Regions from separate parts of the Homo sapiens genome. Here region 2 is linked to region 1. A link means that fine-mapping ties the variant in region 1 to the expression of a gene that starts in the linked region. Tissue or cell type: whole blood. Region 1 holds a variant in brackets; the other region holds the start of a gene. All regions are shown on one strand. Distances are from middle to middle.

Region 1 (8,264 bases):
AGTGGTTGCCAAAGGTGGGGGCGGCTGTGGCAATTTCTTAAAATAAGACAACAATGAAGTTTGCCTTGGCAATTGACTCTTCCTTTCGCGAAAGATGTCTCTGTAGCACGTGATGCTGTTTGATAGCATTTCACCCACAGTAGAATTTCTTTCCAAATTAGAGTCCATCCTCTCAAGCCCTGCCACTGCTTTATCAACTGAGTCGACGTAACATTCTAAATCCTTTGTTGTCATTTCAACATGTTCATGGCATCTTCACCAGGAGTAGATTCCGTCTCAAGAAACCACTTTCTTTGCCCATCCATATAAAGCAACTTCTCACCTATTTAAACTTCATCATGAGATTGCAGCAATTCAGTCACATCTTTGGGCTCCACTTTTAATTATAGTTCTCTTGCTATTTCCACCACATCTGCAGTGACTTCCTATGGTAAATTGACCAAAGTCTCAATTGAGCTTTTCGAAGGCATCCAGGGTTGGAATCGACTTCTTCCGAACTCCTGTTAATGTTGGCATTTGACCTCCTCCCATGAATCATGAATGTTCTTAATGGCACCTGGAATAGTGAATTATTTTCAGAAGGTTTTAATTTCTTTTGTCCAGATCCATCAGAGGATTCACTATCTGTGGAAGCTATAGCCTTACAAAATGTATTTTTTAAATAATAAGAATTGAAAGTCAAAATGACTCCTTGATTCCTGGGCTGCAGAATGGATGTTGTGCTAACAGACATGGAAACATTCATCTTCTTGTACATCTCTATCAGAGCTCTTGGGTGACCTGGTACTCAATGAGCAGTCACATTTTCAAAAAATCTTTTTTTTTCTGAGCAGAAGGTCTCAACAGTGGGTTGAAAATATTCAGTAAGTCATGATGTAAGCAGATGTACTGACACCCAAGGTTTGTTGTTCCATTTATAAAGCACAGACAGAGTAGATTTAGCATAAGTTTAAGTGCTTTAGGATTTTTGAATGGTACATGAGGACTGGCTTCAACTTCAAGTCACCAGCTGCATTAGCCCCTGACAAGAGAGTCAGCTTGTCCTTTGAAGCTCTGAAGCCAGGCATTGACTTCTCCTTTCTAGCTATGAAAGTCTTAGGTGGCATTTTCTTCCAGTAGAAGGCTCTTTCATCTACATGAAAAATCTGTTGTTTAGTGTAGTGACCTTCATCGATGATCTTAGCAAGATCTGGAGCACTTGCCACCTCATCTTGCACTTGATGTTACGGAGATGGCTTCTTTCCTTAAACCTTATGAACCAACCTCTACTAGGTTCCAACTTCACTTCTGCAGCTTCCTCACCTCTCTCAGCCTTAATAGAACCAAAGAGATAGGGTCTTGCTCTGGATTAGGCTTTGGCTTAAGGGAACATTGCGGTTGGTTTGCTCTTCTATCCACACCACGCACACTTTCTCCATATCAGCAATAAGGCTGTTTCGCTTTCTTATCATACGTGTGTTCACTGCAGTAGCACTTTTAATTTTTTTCAAGAAATTTTTCTTTGCTTTCACAGCCTGGCTGTTTGGCACAAGAGGGCTAGGTTTCAGGCTGTCTTGGCTTTCAACATGCCTTCCTCACTAAGCTTAATCATTTCTAGCTTTTGATTAAAGTTGAGAGACATACCACTTTTCTTTCACTTGAATATTTAGAGGCCATGGTAGGGTTATTAATTGGCCTAATTTCAATATTGTTGTGTCTTAGGGAATAAGGAAGCTTAAAGAAAGAGAGAGAGAGAGAGAGAGAACAGCCTCAGTCGAGCAGTCAGAACACACACAACATTAATTGATTAATTCATTGTCTTATGTGGGTGTGGCTTATCATGCCCAAAAACAATTACAGTAGTAACACCAAAGATCACTGATTACAGATGAGTATAGCATATATAATAACAATGAAAAAGGTTGAAATATTGCAAAAAACTACCAAAATGTGACAGAGACAGGAAGTGAGCACCTGTAGACTTGCTCGATGCCATGTTGCCATAAACCTTCAGTTTGTAAAAAATGCAATCTCTGCAAAGCACAATAAAGCCAAGTGCAATTAAAATCAGCTATGCCTGTATAAAAAGTGCCCGGCATATGGGAGATACCCCATGTGTGGTACTTATTAATATTGGTAGTTTTCATGTGCTGCCCCCAGGAATACATAGATAGATTAACTCAAATGAACTCTAAGGAAACTTACGTTAAGTCTTATGTCTCTTTCCTCCAGATGTCATGGGAACAGACATGTCTTGGAGAGGTGCACCCTGGGATCTGTCCAGGATCAGAAACTCTTGGAGCCAGCCCAGCCAGAGGTACTGCCCAAGGACTTGTTCTCCAAAGCTTCCAGTCATGAAAGTGCTCAGCCCAAGGTGGGTGCCAGGGTGACTGTGCCCCAGGGATGGCTGGGCTTCTTTCTCTATCTGGTTCAGCCCAAGCCACTTTAGGCAACTGTGGATTCACAGCAGTACCTCTAACTCTTCCCACCCCATGGAGACCTGGGCATGCATGAAAGGCTAGGAGGACAGCATAGAATTTGGCCACTGGCCCCTACGGCCATGGGTGGTGGTTGGTGACTGAAGAAAGAGATGAAGGCTTGTCAGGGAGGTGCTTGAACCCTGTCTGGTAGCCCGCAGAACCGAGATCAGAGGCTGTGGAGGCACTGCTGCCTCCTGGGCTCTAAATGAGCAAATGTTTGGGAACGACGGTGCCAGAACAAAGCTGCCTGCGCTCCTGTCCTGCCCTTCTCAGCTCAAGTCACACACGTGCTAAGAGGCTTTTGGCTCCAAGTGGCTGGTAGACATTGGTTGACAGATTTGGGATGTGATAAGAGGCTGTTGATTTCATTCGTTTGTGCAATGTCGGAGATAAATTTTAACAGTTAAAACGGGGAAAGAAAAAAAAAAGCCCTAGAACTTTGCCAGCATCACAACTCTGCCTGTTTCTTCTAACGGATTTCTTGAAACTGTCAACTGCCTGAGCTGGAGAAGCCCACTTATAAGGAACGTTGTCATGTGTCTCCAGGGGAGCCAGGACCGTCCGTGGGGTTGGCTGGCCCTTCACAATGTGACCCCACTTCCATGGGCTCCCTCTTTCCTCCTGCACAGCCCTGGGGTGCAGGGCTCCCTCTGGAAGGCAACAGCTTCCAGCGACTCAAAGGCCTGCAGGGTCGTGTGATCCCAGCATCACAGGTCTACCCATAGAACCAGCAATTTTATCAGTAGTATTAATTATCCTCTGCAAAAAGAGACACTGAAAACAAAGTTCCCTTTCTCAAAGAACTCTGATGAGAAATTAAAAAATATATTTGACCTTGGAGG[A/C]TTCGTTGTTTTGGAAGCCACAGAGACCTGCCTCATGCAACTCAAAAGAAGGATTACATCTGTGATGTGTGGGACGGGCACGAGGGGCCTCTACAACCAATCTACCCTGTGTCTTGACTTCTCTGAGAGTTGCATTGGGTTCAACAGTGATTCCATTTCCTCCCAAAGGGCCACTGGGAGATAAGCAGCATCGAGCTTATATCCAAAAAGCTCTATGTAGTTTCAAGGTGTTTCCAAAGCACCTCCTCTGATCCTCATACCCTCCAGGGTGGCAGGCAACACAGGGCATTTGCGTTTGCTCTGAGATGAAGATACGACCATAGGGTTGTACCCAGAAGTTCTCATGACTGGACATCCAGCTCTTTGCACCACACTCCGAAGGGAGAAGTGATCCAGGTTGCCCTTCTGAGAGTGAATATCACTTCCAGCACAAGCGGCAGCCTGCATCCCAGCCAGCCCTGCTGATGCCTCCAAGGATGTGAGTGAGAGTTGCCCACATCATGGGAACCCTTTGCTGGTCTGCAAAATATCCCAGAGGTTGTTCCTTTGAACCCTGTGTGGGGAGAGCTTTGACTTAAATGTGTCATGCATAGAATGAACCCCTGCAGGAGTGTGTCACCCCTTGGCTTCCCAGGAAGACCACCCGCTTTTCTGACACTGTCCCTGGAATGACCAATTGTGGCCTTTTTACAAACTCTTCAGGCTCGAGAAGTGCACATCCTCATTTACAAGGGACATGTGGAAAGTCTTGAAATTGGATCCGAAAAGTGTGGTTTCTCCAAGAACTAAAGCTCCCGAAGCAGTTTTGAGAAGAGAGGGACATAGGCTAGCATGGATTCTTTTCCTTTGCTCTTAGGATGTGTGTGATCCCGAAGAGTTTGCCGGCAGGCTATGGGAACTCCATCCCCACACACTCAGCCACTACCTCAGGTGGCAGGGGCCCTGGCTAGGGTTTGGCTGTAATATTCAGGACTGACTGAGCATCCTGCACAGTGGTGAAGGGAGGGGTCCTCTGGAGACCATGCCTCTCCTACAGTAAGCCCCACCCCCAGGTGGGAGGGATGTGCCAGTGCCTTCTCACCCCCACGTGCCTGCATGTTGCCCTTCGTTCTGCTGTTTCCTAATCACACCTGCTCTCAGGAACAGGTGCAACACAGTCCCACTAGGTGCATAGCTACTCACACTGTGACACGGACACTCCCAGGAACACCAGCCCCATAAAGCCTCGGAGGAGAGGGCTAGAATTCTAGGCAACCTTGAGCTAGGGAGGGCTCCTTTGAACTGGGAGATTCTCAATGTCTTTGGCGTCTTATTCTTATCAAAAGTCCCTCTGCAGAAGCCTCGTCTTGGGGATTGGCCAGAGGGAAAAGTTTATGGCAGCACTTGCATCAAAAGACACCAGAGCATCACATCAACCAACGACCAACTGTAATGATTTCACTTTTATCAGTATACACATGATTAGAAATTTTGGAAACTGGACCACTATTCTGTTCTACTAACCAAACACTCAATACCATGAATCATGTGAGAGGACTGTTGCCCATGTTAGGTTATGTGACCTTTTTCTTTTGGCTGGGGATGGCATACTTCATTGATGGTGCATGACAAGCTGGAGCTGCCTAAGCCCCTGTCCTTCCTCCAGGAGTCTGGAATGGAAACTGACTTTGGGGAGCCTGAGTGGGGCAATGACTCCCCAGCAGCTGGGGGTTCACTCTTCCTCTCATGCTCTTGATGGAGCTGGTGGTCTGGGGGTCTTACTCCTTGGAGGCCGTGTGGACCATAAGGTCCACCACCCTGTTGCTGCTGCCAAATTCATCCCAGGAAAGGAGCCTGACAAAGTGGCCATTGAAGGTAATGCCAGTCGTGGCATTGAAGGTAGAAGAGTGCAGGTGCCACTCTTAAAGTCAGAGGAGACAACTTGGTCCTCAGTGTAGATCAGAATGCCCTTGAGGGGGCCCTCCGATACCTGCTTCAGCATCTTCTCATGCCATCATATTTGGCAGCTTTCTGCAGATGGCAGATGAGAGCCACAACCAACATATTATGGGTGGGAACACAGAAGGCCATACCTGTGAGCCTCTTATCTGGCTCAGGGATGACCTTGCCCATAGCCTCGGCCACACTAGTAGATACAGGGATGATGTTCTGCAGCAGTCACGCCAAAGTTTCTCCAACAGTCTTCTGGGTGGCAGTAGTGGCATGGACTGTAGTCATAGATGACCTTGGCCAAGGGTGCCAAACGTTGATAGTGCAGGAGGCACTGCTGACAATCTCGAGAAGATAATTCATACTTCTCATGGTTCACACCCACCACAAACATGGATCTGCACAAGAGCACAAGGGGCAAAGATGACGACAGTTTTGGCTACTTCAAGTGAGCCCCAGTCTTCTCCGTAGTGCTGAAGACGCCAGTGGGCTCTGCACCATATTCAGCACCAGTGTTGCCTCATTTGATGTTGGCGAGATCTTGCTCTTGGAGGATGGAGATGGGCTTCCCTTTGATTACAAGCTTCCTGTTCTCTTTCCTTGACTGTGCCATTGGACTTGTCATGAAATATACTGGAACATGTAGACCATGGAGTTGAGGCCAGTGAAGAGATCATTGATGATGACAGTGTCCATTTTGCCGAGTTGAAAGCTGCCCTGGTGACCAGGTATCCAATATGGCCAAATCCATTGACTCAGACTCTCACCATTGTATCCTGGATGAGGCTGACACTGCATGAGCAGATGGAGCTGTTTGTCGAACGAGGAAGAGAAGAGAGCCACAGCTTTTTTCTTTTAAAAACAGACTTCATTTTCTGAGCAGTTCTAGATTCACAGAAAAATTGAGCAGAGTACAGAGATATCCCAGGTACCTTCCCCCCTACACATGCACAGCTCCCCTCATTATCAACATCCCCCACCAGACTGGCATGTTTGTTTCAATTAATGAACCAACATTGACACATCTCTATCACCCAGAGTCCATGGTTTACCTTAGGGTTCACTCTCTGTGTTGGACATTTTATGGGTTTTGACAAATGCATTATGACATGCATCCATCATTATAATATCAGAGTAGTCTCACTGCCCTACAAATCCTCTGTACCCTACCAGTTCATCCCTTCCTCCCGCTCCCCCCTTGGCAACCACTGATCTTGTTATACTCTTCATAGTTTCACCTTTTCCAGAATGTCATACAGTTGGAATCATACAGTATGCAGCCTTCTCAGATTGGCTTCTTTCACTCAGTAATATGCATTTAAGTTTCCCCCATGCCTTTTCATGGCTTCGCAGCTCAATTCTCTTTGGCGCTAAGTAATACGCCATTGTCTGCATGTACCCCAGTTTATCCCCTCACCTACTGAAGGATATCTTGGTTGTTTCCAACTTTTAGCAAATACGGATAAAGTGGCTCTAAACATCCGTGTGCAGGTTTTTGTGTGGAAAAGGTTTTCAACTCCTTTCATAAATAAGGGGCGTGGCTGCTGGAAGTTAACGCAACTTTTACTTTGCCTTGATGGCTCTCAAGCGGGGCTGCCCATTATAACCACCTGGTGAGCATTTAACAAATCCCTGTACCCACCCCCACCCAGGCCACTTTAAACCAGACTCGGAGATGGGTGGGGCTTGAACAAAGTGTTAACCAACCCATTGGGAGGTCCTGAAGTGCAGCCGGTGTTGAGGATCACCAATTCAGAGGCTGACACTAGATTCCCGAGTTTCTGCAGATTTCTAGTCAGCTTCTCTACCAAGAGATATTTAGACATTGAGAGCAATAAGAAAATGGTTAAATGACCAAGTATTTATGTTTTATAAAACATTTTTTAAAAAATTTATATATATGTGTGTATATGTGTGTGTGTGTGTATATATATGTAGAGAGAGAGAGAGAGAGAGAGACTCACTCTGTTGACCAGGCTAGAGTACAGTGGTGTGATCATGGCTCACTGCAGCCCTGAACCCAAGGGCCCAAGTGATCAAGTGATTCTCCTGACTCAGCCTCTCAAGTAGCTGGAACTACAGGCACATGCCATCACGCACAGCTTTTTTTTTTTGAGACTGAGTCTTGCTCTGTTGCCCAGGCTGGAGTGCAGTGGTGCAATCTCAACTCACTGCAACCTCCACCTCCCAGGTTCAAGCAATTCTCCTGGCTCAGCCTCCTGAGTAGCTAGGATTACAGGCTTGCGCCACCCTGACCAGTTAATTTTTTTTTTTTTTTTGTATTTTTAGTAGATATGGGGTTTCACCATGCTGGCCAGGCTGGTCTCAAGCTCCTGACCTCGTGATCCTCCTGCCTCAGCCTCCCAAAGTGCTGGGATTACAGACGCCCTGCTAATTTTTAAAACTTTTTTGTAGAAACGGGGTCTCCCTATGTTGCCTAGGCTGGTCTCAAACTCTTGGGCTCAAGTGACCCTCCTGCCTCGGGCTCCCAGAGCGCTGAGATTTCAGGTGTGAGCCACTGTGCCTGGCCTATGAAACATTTCTATTTTCATTTCTAGAAAAATCAATGTCATTTTTCTAGAAAGTTTCTATATGAAATTCACATCTGCCCCTTTTCACCCCCTTTGACTGACAACAGGCCCCAGAAGGTCCCCTTTTCATGAATTTCAGCATCCCTGGGCCCAGCCAGGCCACCATGGGCATTCCAATCAATTCCAACTTCTCCCAGCTCCCAGGGGCAACAGTTCTTGGTGTGAGGAACATGGACTTGCCCTTCCCTCTGCACCAGCTTGACCTGGCCAGTTCCTTGTGGCTAACAGAGTGGACATCTGTCACTGTCTGCCTGGGGCAGGGTGAAGACCAGGAGATGTCTGAGGTAGAGGGGTCCTTGGTGGGGGGTGGGGGTGGGGTCTAGGCCAGTCATCTATGTGTTTATGTTAAAGCATTTACATATTTATTTATTTATTTATTTATTTATATATTTTTTGAGACTGAGTCTCGCCCTGTTGCCCAGGCTGGAGTGCAGTGGTGCAAT
Region 2 (8,000 bases), 99 kb before region 1:
CGTGAGCCATCGCACCCAGCCCTAAGTAGCTTTCTTATTACCTTCTCCACTGCCACAAATCAAGGTCAGGCTAGCATCATCTCTTGCTCTACGACTGCAACGGCCTCCCAACTGGTTTCCTTGCCTCTAGACTTTCCTCCCTCCAATCTGTTCTTCTTACCACAGCCAGAGTGATTGTTATAAAATGTAATTCTGCTCACGTCACTACACTGCCTAAAGTCTTTAAATGATTCCCTGTTGTCAAAACCAGTAGCAAAGATGGAGTGAAATCACAAGCCCAACATGGAAATGGAAGGAAGGGGTTTAAGATACTGGCTTCTATTGCTCACAAGCAAAGAACATTAATTCATGTCTGTAACCATTTACGACAGAAAGAGTCCAAAATAATAAAAATATTGCCTCCTCAAAAATGTGTCTGTCCTCATTGTACAAGGACATAGATCAGAAATATTCTCTAGATCCCACATAAATCACCTTAGAATATGTGGCAGTCATTTAGAAATCAGAAACTGGTCGGGCACGGTGGCTCACAAAAAATACAAAAAATTAGCTGGGCGTGGTTGTGTGTGCCTGTAATCCCAGCTACTGGGGAGGCTGAGGCAGGAGAATCGCTTGAACCAGGGAGTCGGAGGTTGCAGGGAGCTGAGATTGCACCACTGCACTCCAGCCTGGCAACACAGCAAGACTCTGTCTCAAAAAAAAAAAAAAGAAAAAGAAAAAAAAGAAATCACAAGCTAATGTAATCTGGTTGGCAACGCCAGAAGTTAGGAGGAGTAACTGGATAACAATAGAAAACTTTAAATATTTGTTCAACAATTTCTTACTAAATATTTCCTACTGCAAGTCACTGTGGATGTGCAAGAAATACTTTCTACCTTCTAGAACCTTACAAGGTAGTAGGCAAGATCACATATTTCAATGAGTATCAAAACTATTGGCTGAGCGAGGTGGCTTAGGCCTGTAATCCCAGCACTTTGGAAGGCCGAGGCAGGCAAATCACTTGACTCCAAAAGTTTGAGACCAGCCTGGCCAACATGGGGAAACCCCATCTCTAGCAAAAATACAAAATGCAGGCCTCACGTGGTGGTGCACGCCTGTAATCCCAGCTACTCGGGAGGCTGAGGCATGAGAATCACTTGAAGCTGGGAGGTGGAGGTTGCAGTGAGCCAAGATCACGTGACCGCACTCCAACCTGGGTGACAGAGCAAGACTCTACTGAAAAAAAAAAAAAAAAGAATGTGGCCTTATTTGGAAGTGGGCCTGTTGTAGATGTAATTAGTTAAGATGAGGCCATACTAGAGTAGGGTAGGCCCTTAACCCAATATAAGGGGAGAGACAGGAAAGGAGAATGCCACCTGAGGATAGCGGTAGATATTGGGGTGATGCCACTGCCACTGCAGGTCAAGGGATGCCATGGACTAATGGTCACCACCAAAGGCTAGGAAGAAGCAAAGAAGAATTCTCCCCTACAAGTTTCAGAGGGCACATGGCTGTGTTAGGTCATTCTTGCACTGATATAAAGGAATACCTGAGACTGGGTAATTTATAAAGAAAAGTGGATTAATTGGCCCACAGCTCTCCAGGCTGTACAGAAAGTATGGGGTCAGCATATGCTTCTGGTGAGGCCTCAAGAAGCTTCCAATCATCAGTTGGAGACAACATTGGAGACAACAGCAACAGGAAGGTCCCTCTCACCTTCCTCTCGCTCTTCTCCCCTGAAGCAGGCCATAGCACTAGCAAAAGCGTCTCAGGCCTTCCCCTGAAGGCAGACCTAAGACTGTTATTCAAGAGGTGCCCTCCCTCTACCCAGACAAAGGAACATCCTTATCTCTGAAGACACAGGACCACAGAGATAGACTTCTGCCTTCTCGGCAGAAGGCAAAGGGGAGCCAGCATGTCACATGGCAAGAGAGGGGGCAAGAGAGAGAGTGGGGGAAGGATCAGGCTCTTTTAAATAACCAGATCTCATGTGAACTACTAGAGAAAGAACCCCTCATCCAAGGGGATGGCACTAAACCATTCATGAGGGATCCACCCTAATGATCCAATACCTCCCACCAGGTCCCACCTCCAACACTGGGATCACATTTCAACATGGGATTTGGAGGGGACAAACATCCAAACCATATCCAATATCCTTGCCAACACTTTGATTTGGGACACCTACCCTCCTAAACTGTGAGACAACCAATTTCTATTATTCCCCAGTTTTGTGGTACTTTGTTATAGTCACCCTAGGAAACGAATGTGACAGTTTTATAGTTAGGTTATAAACAAAATGTCGTGAAAGATCATTTCTAGCAGCCCTGGAGCTTGTAAAGGACATGGCTTTGTGCTGAGCTCTAGCAGCATGGTTTTGGTACGTAGAGATGACATAGAGGAGAAACGGCTTTATGTTCTTCCATGTCCATCCGAATTCTATGTTGAGGTCTAACCCTCCTAAGCAGCCTCTCTGGAAAACTAGTTGAACTTGAACCTAAACCTACTGTCAACTAGGCCACTAACTAATATGACTTTTAAGGCACAAAATCAGGGAGAACAGAATCTTTTATACATGCTTTATTACTCAAGCAGCAGTGTGCAGTGATTAAATACTTACTCGCTTTTACTACATTTCTCTGACACAGCAAAGGGTGACGTCTTCTTCATGGAGACTTTAGTGAGCAGTAGCTAATTTAAAGCTCAGTGTAGGCCGGTCGTGGTGGCTCACACCTGTAATCTCAGCACTTCTTTGGGAGGTGGAGGCGGAGAGGGGTTGGGATTCCTTGAGCCTTGGAGTTCAGGGCCAGCATGGCAACAGGGCGAAACCTAGTTTTTACAGAAAATACAAACATCAGCTGGGCATGGTGGCGGGCCTGTAGTCCCTGCTACTCTGCAGGCTGAAGCAGGAGGAGTGCTTTAGCAGGGAGGTCGAGGCTTAAATGAGCCCAGGTCGTGCCACTGCACTCCAGCTTGGGCGACAGAGCGAGAAGACCCTGTTTCAAAAAACAAACACAAAAATTCATTCTAACCAAAACTGAATGCTAGTAGCAGGAACTGGTATGAAGATTGCGGTCTGGAATCCCTTCTAATGCGTCTGACCTTGCATTGTGAAGTCTTCACAGTGATGCTTCTGGGTTCTATATGATTATCGTCATTGCTTAGCAACCTCTAGTTGTAAATAAATTCTTTAAATTTCCTTAGTCGTTTGCGGGGCAAGGAGAGGGTCATTTACATGCCCTTTCCTTCTCGCTACTCAATCTTAAATTTGGGTTACGAATCAAACTGATGGACCCTACATGGCTTCTACCCGAAATTACAGGTATCTACCGTTCCATCTTCAAGAAAGGGAGGGGTTCCGCCAAGATGGACGAACATAAAAATCACAGGAGGAGCCTTCTAACAATGTGCATTCTTCGCACACTGAGTGGGGAATGGCCTTGTCATGTTTGAAACAGTGCCCCAACTACTCAATGTCCCAGGAACCCCAGTGGAGCGAGTTCTGTACACAGAGAGGGCCAAGATCCACAAATCAGCTAAGGAATCATTTCCATAGTCTCCCTCCCCTATTGAGTCTCGATCCACAAAAGCTATCCCCTGTCCCTCTCATCCATCAAGGGCGTGTTTTTCGCCTCTCCTTCCCCGGCCTCCCGCGTCCGCCCAGCCTGTCCGCATCCAGCCCCGCCACGCCCCATGGGCGGTCCCGAGCTGCGGCCCCGCCCCCTCACCGCCTCCCCGGCCGCGGAAACCCCGCCCCAACGACGCGGAGACCGGGGGCGGCCCGCGGCCCGCGGCGGGCGGGCTGGCGGGGACGGACGCGGGGGGAGGGGGGCGACGGGATGTGGGGTGGGGGCGGGGCCTGGCTGGGCGCCGGGACGGGAGGAGTCCCGGCGGCGCCTCGGACTTTTGCTCCCACAAGTCCTGCCTCGGAGGCGGGGGAGCTGGACCAGCAGCCGCCTGGAGCGTCCGAGTCACCGTCGCCGGGGCTCCCGCGCTCCCCAGAACGGTGGGACGCGGGGCTCGGCAGCCGCCAGCGGAACATGGCGCCCTGGACGCTGTGGCGCTGCTGCCAGCGCGTCGTGGGCTGGGTGCCGGTGCTCTTCATCACCTTCGTGGTCGTCTGGTCCTACTACGCGTACGTGGTGGAGCTCTGCGTGTGTGAGTACCGTCCCCGGGGACTGCGGCGGGGCGCGGGCCGCGGCTAGGGCGCGAGATAGGCCTCTGCGCCCCACACCCGCCGCCTTTCTGGAGCCAGCGCCGGACGCCGGGCGTCCGGCCCCGAACGCGCTCGGAAGCGCCGAGGTTGCTGCACCCGCCGCTTTGTTCAATCCTGCGGCGCGGCCTTGGGGCGACCTGGGGCTCCTGAAGCCTTGCGGCGGCTTCCCGGGTGCAGGTCTGGCCCAGGGAGGCCCCAAGAGCTTCCTGGTTCCCGCCGACACCGGGGGTCTGCATCCTTCTGGGAAGGAACGTGCAGAACGGGAGTAGTCGAGCTTCTTAGAAGGTTTAGGTTGTGTTTGTGGCTTTTTTGGCTTTTGTTCATTTTTTTTAAAAAACCAAATCTGTTCCTTCTGGATTGTTTTTGTTCAAACTGCGCGAGAAGAAACGCCTGTTACCTGTAGAGCCGGCTGTGGCGGGTTGGGGGAAGGGAGGTGTGTCTTTTGGTGGCCTCGGGCTGGAGGCGGGTCAGACCTGGAGGACGAGTAAGCTCCCACTTTTGATTTTTGGTGGTACTCGACTCATTGTAAAATTCGTTTATTTCTACTCTGAATCCAGCCGGCTTTTGCAGAAGGTTAAGACAGAAAGAATGGGTGGGAGGAGACATAACCTGATTATTTTTTTCTTGGCTGATTATTAAGGAGGCTTATATTTCTTATACTCATATTTTGGCGTGTTAATTTTCGTTACTTCCATTTTCCTGATAAGTTCTTAGCACAAAATTCTCATCTGATTCCCTGGAAAAAAGGAGTAGCATTGCAGTATACTTCAAGGATTTAACCTACTGGCTTGAATTGGTTGCCTTTAAGATTGAAGGAAATTGGTTGTCATTAATCAAAAACACTGTTTAGGGGTGACTGCTACATTTGTGATATTGGGCAATTTCTCCAACATTGTTTTGTCTTAAGTAAATTGTTCTTAGGCTTTGAGTATGTGGGTATTTTACACTTAAACTGGCCTCAACTAGGGTGTTCTGTATACATCTGCTGCCTATATCAATTTTTTATGAAAACCTAGGACCAAATGGTAAGTGGTGTTTGTAAACGTTATTGTTATTCCAGAATGTTCTACTCTTAGTCCTTAGACTGAATCTACCATTTTATGAAGGACTGTTAAGTGTTCTTTGAATAACGAACCACATCAGCTAGAAACTAATGTTATGAATGAGAAGAATCTGTACCACCCACTCTTGAAAGTGGCAGAATCAAGACTTCAATTATGTTTGGATTTGTACAGCTTTCAACCAAGTATTTGGTTAAAACCCTAGTTCTATACATGGAAGAGAATGCTTTGGCTCAGAAAATTTATAAGTTTTGAAATTAAAACATCCAGTTTTAAAATTACTTTGTACCTATAGAACGTTTAATTTTGGGACGACTATCCCTGCAGGTAGGCCCAGAATAAATTAGTTGTGGAATACATTTCCAAATAATATTAATCTTTTCAATATCATTGTTTAGTCTCATGCTTTTGGATACCAGAATGTTTACTAAAAATGATGTTTGAGTCAATTAAAATTACTAGATTTTAATATTTCTGGGAGCTACTTCCAGAAAGTGGTAGTGATCATAGGATTCTCATCAACTTATGATGATACCTCCTTTATCTTCTTATTTACTCTGAAGTGGGCATTTATTCTAAAAGTTATGTCATTCCTATTCTGTCAGAAGATTATTCCTACCGTATTTTAATTCCCGTAGTGGTTTTGAAGTAAAGCTGAAGGAACACTAAAAATGTGCATTTATGTTGAGATTCCACAGCTTAACCTGTAGATGGTTTTTGTCAAAAATATTAAGAAATGAGATCAAACAGTGCTGTGAAAAGTCTTAAATTGCTTCTGATTTCTTTCACCACTTCAAATAAAGAAGGAGAAATGAACATGAATTGAGAAGTGCCATGTGCTAGTGGGCATAGAGGGGACATTTCATTCACCCTCTCCTTTAATTCTTTCAGTATGTCACAGCATAGGTATCTCTACAGGTGGAGGACGTGAGACTGAGCGAATAGGTCCTTTTGGTTAGGTCACACAATTGATTATTGGAATGTGACCCACATCTTTCCGTTCTTTCATATAACTTCAGTAAGCTATGAGGGTCAATGGAACTGTAATTGTTTGGTCCATAATGGTGTGGGGGGATAAAGGGGTTGGCATATTTTTGGAGATCACTTAGTTAGGCTTGAGGCCCATTCTGTAGAGATTATACCCTACAATTTCATTAAGTTAAAACATTCTATAACTATGGCCTGATGCTTGGCAGAATCTTAAAATATTTGGTGGTGAAAGGTCTTATGTAGAGGCTGTATTAACTTCTGAGTTATCTCATTTTAACTAGAGAGAATTTGGGAGGTCTGCAGTGTCACTGGAGTATAAAATAGTTGAGCATAAAAGTGCATTTACTCATATTAAAACTATCCTTTAAACTACTTGTATGTATTTGTTTTCATAAGTACTGACCCTCCCACTGAAATATGTATAGATATATTACTTTATAGGAGGACTTAAATGGAGGGAAGTGTGAGTTTTACTTAAAAGTGCTGTTTTAATACTTTTATAGGATATTCTTTTTATTTATATATGTATTTTTTGAGCCAGAGTTTCACTCTTGTTGCCCAGGCTGGAGTGCAATGATGCGATCTTGGCTCACTGCAACCTCTGCCTCCTGGGTTCAAGTGACTCTCCTGCCTCAGCCTCCCAAGTAGCTGGGATTACAGGTGCCCGCCACCATGCCCAGCTAATTTTTTTTGTATTTTTAGTAGAGACGGGGGTTTCACCTTGTTGGTCAGGCTGGTCTCAAACTCCTGACCTCAGGCAATCCACCCACCTTGGCCTCCCAAAGTGCTGGGATTACAGGCATGAGGCATTGTGCCCGGCCTATAGGATATTCTTAGATTCTGGTATTCTTTATCAAACTAGGAGGAGAAGATCATAATTATATCTTTACATGTATGTATTAATTCATTTAATCTTAATAATGATCCCCATAAGGTTAAGTAATTTGTCCACGGTTATAGAGCCAGTAAGTAGCATGGTAAGAATTGGAATTCAAGGGGTTTGGCTCCAAAGCCCATGCTGTTAACCACTATACAATTAATGACTAATCTATTTGGTGTCCAGATCTGGACACTCAGGGCAGATTTCAGTCCTGTATATGATATATTTATATAAAGTACTTTTCTCCTAAAAGGCAGCTGCAGAAGATTCCTAAATATCTCAGACAATAAAAATACCTGGCCCACAGTTGGCTGTAAGTTGAACAAATTGTTGATTACCAAGAGGCCCTCATTCCATCTTACCCTCTGTAACTTGCTAATTGTGTAATTAGACACACACACACACACACACACACACACACACACACACACCACTTCACTGGGAGTAATACTGAGGACAAAATTGAGGAAGAGGGTAATGCATGTAAAACGGCCATCTCACAGGAGTGATAAGCTGAGAAGCGAAGATTAAGTAATTAGTAATATTGGTCCTTGATTTTAAATTAGACTGAAATTCTCGTATGATTTTTTTTCCCCAGGGTTGATATTTAAAGTACGAATGGATTGAATAACTTCTTCTCTTTGGTCAAGGTGGTTATTTTTGAGGCAAGTGCTAATTCTGGTTCCCAAGGTTTTATCAGAATATCTTGTTGTTCAGGTCATCTTGTTAGTGGATGTGTACCTCTTCTTTGGCATGTAGAGAATCTTAGAACTTAAAGAGATTTTAAAGATAATCTCATTCAGTCCCTTTACTTCTGATGAAACTATTGCTCAAAAGAGCTATGTTGGCCAGGCGTGGTGGCTCACACCTGTAA

The links. PIP is the estimated chance that this variant, and not a neighbour inherited with it, causes the effect.
Region 2: ZDHHC20 starts here. The variant in region 1 is fine-mapped to the expression of ZDHHC20 in whole blood (TOPMed, PIP above 0.99).

Annotation. Positions count from the first base shown.
Region 1 is chr13:21,356,109-21,364,372 of GRCh38, reverse strand. It overlaps the pseudogene MIPEPP3 and the pseudogene GAPDHP52. Among named protein-coding and RNA genes, the nearest start is that of LINC00539, 15 kb to the right of the region's middle. The variant A/C (reference allele first, on the strand shown) is at 3,302.
Region 2 is chr13:21,455,191-21,463,190 of GRCh38, reverse strand. ZDHHC20 (zDHHC palmitoyltransferase 20) reads left to right here and starts at 3,888. Exons shown (of 13, transcript NM_001330059.2): 1 at 3,888-4,137. The coding sequence starts at 4,020. LOC124903131 (a long non-coding RNA gene) reads right to left here and starts at 3,644. Exons shown (of 2, transcript XR_007063713.1): 1 at 3,012-3,644; 2 at 2,545-2,808. RefSeq lists a cis regulatory region at 3,647, an enhancer at 3,563-3,732 and a silencer at 3,596-3,975.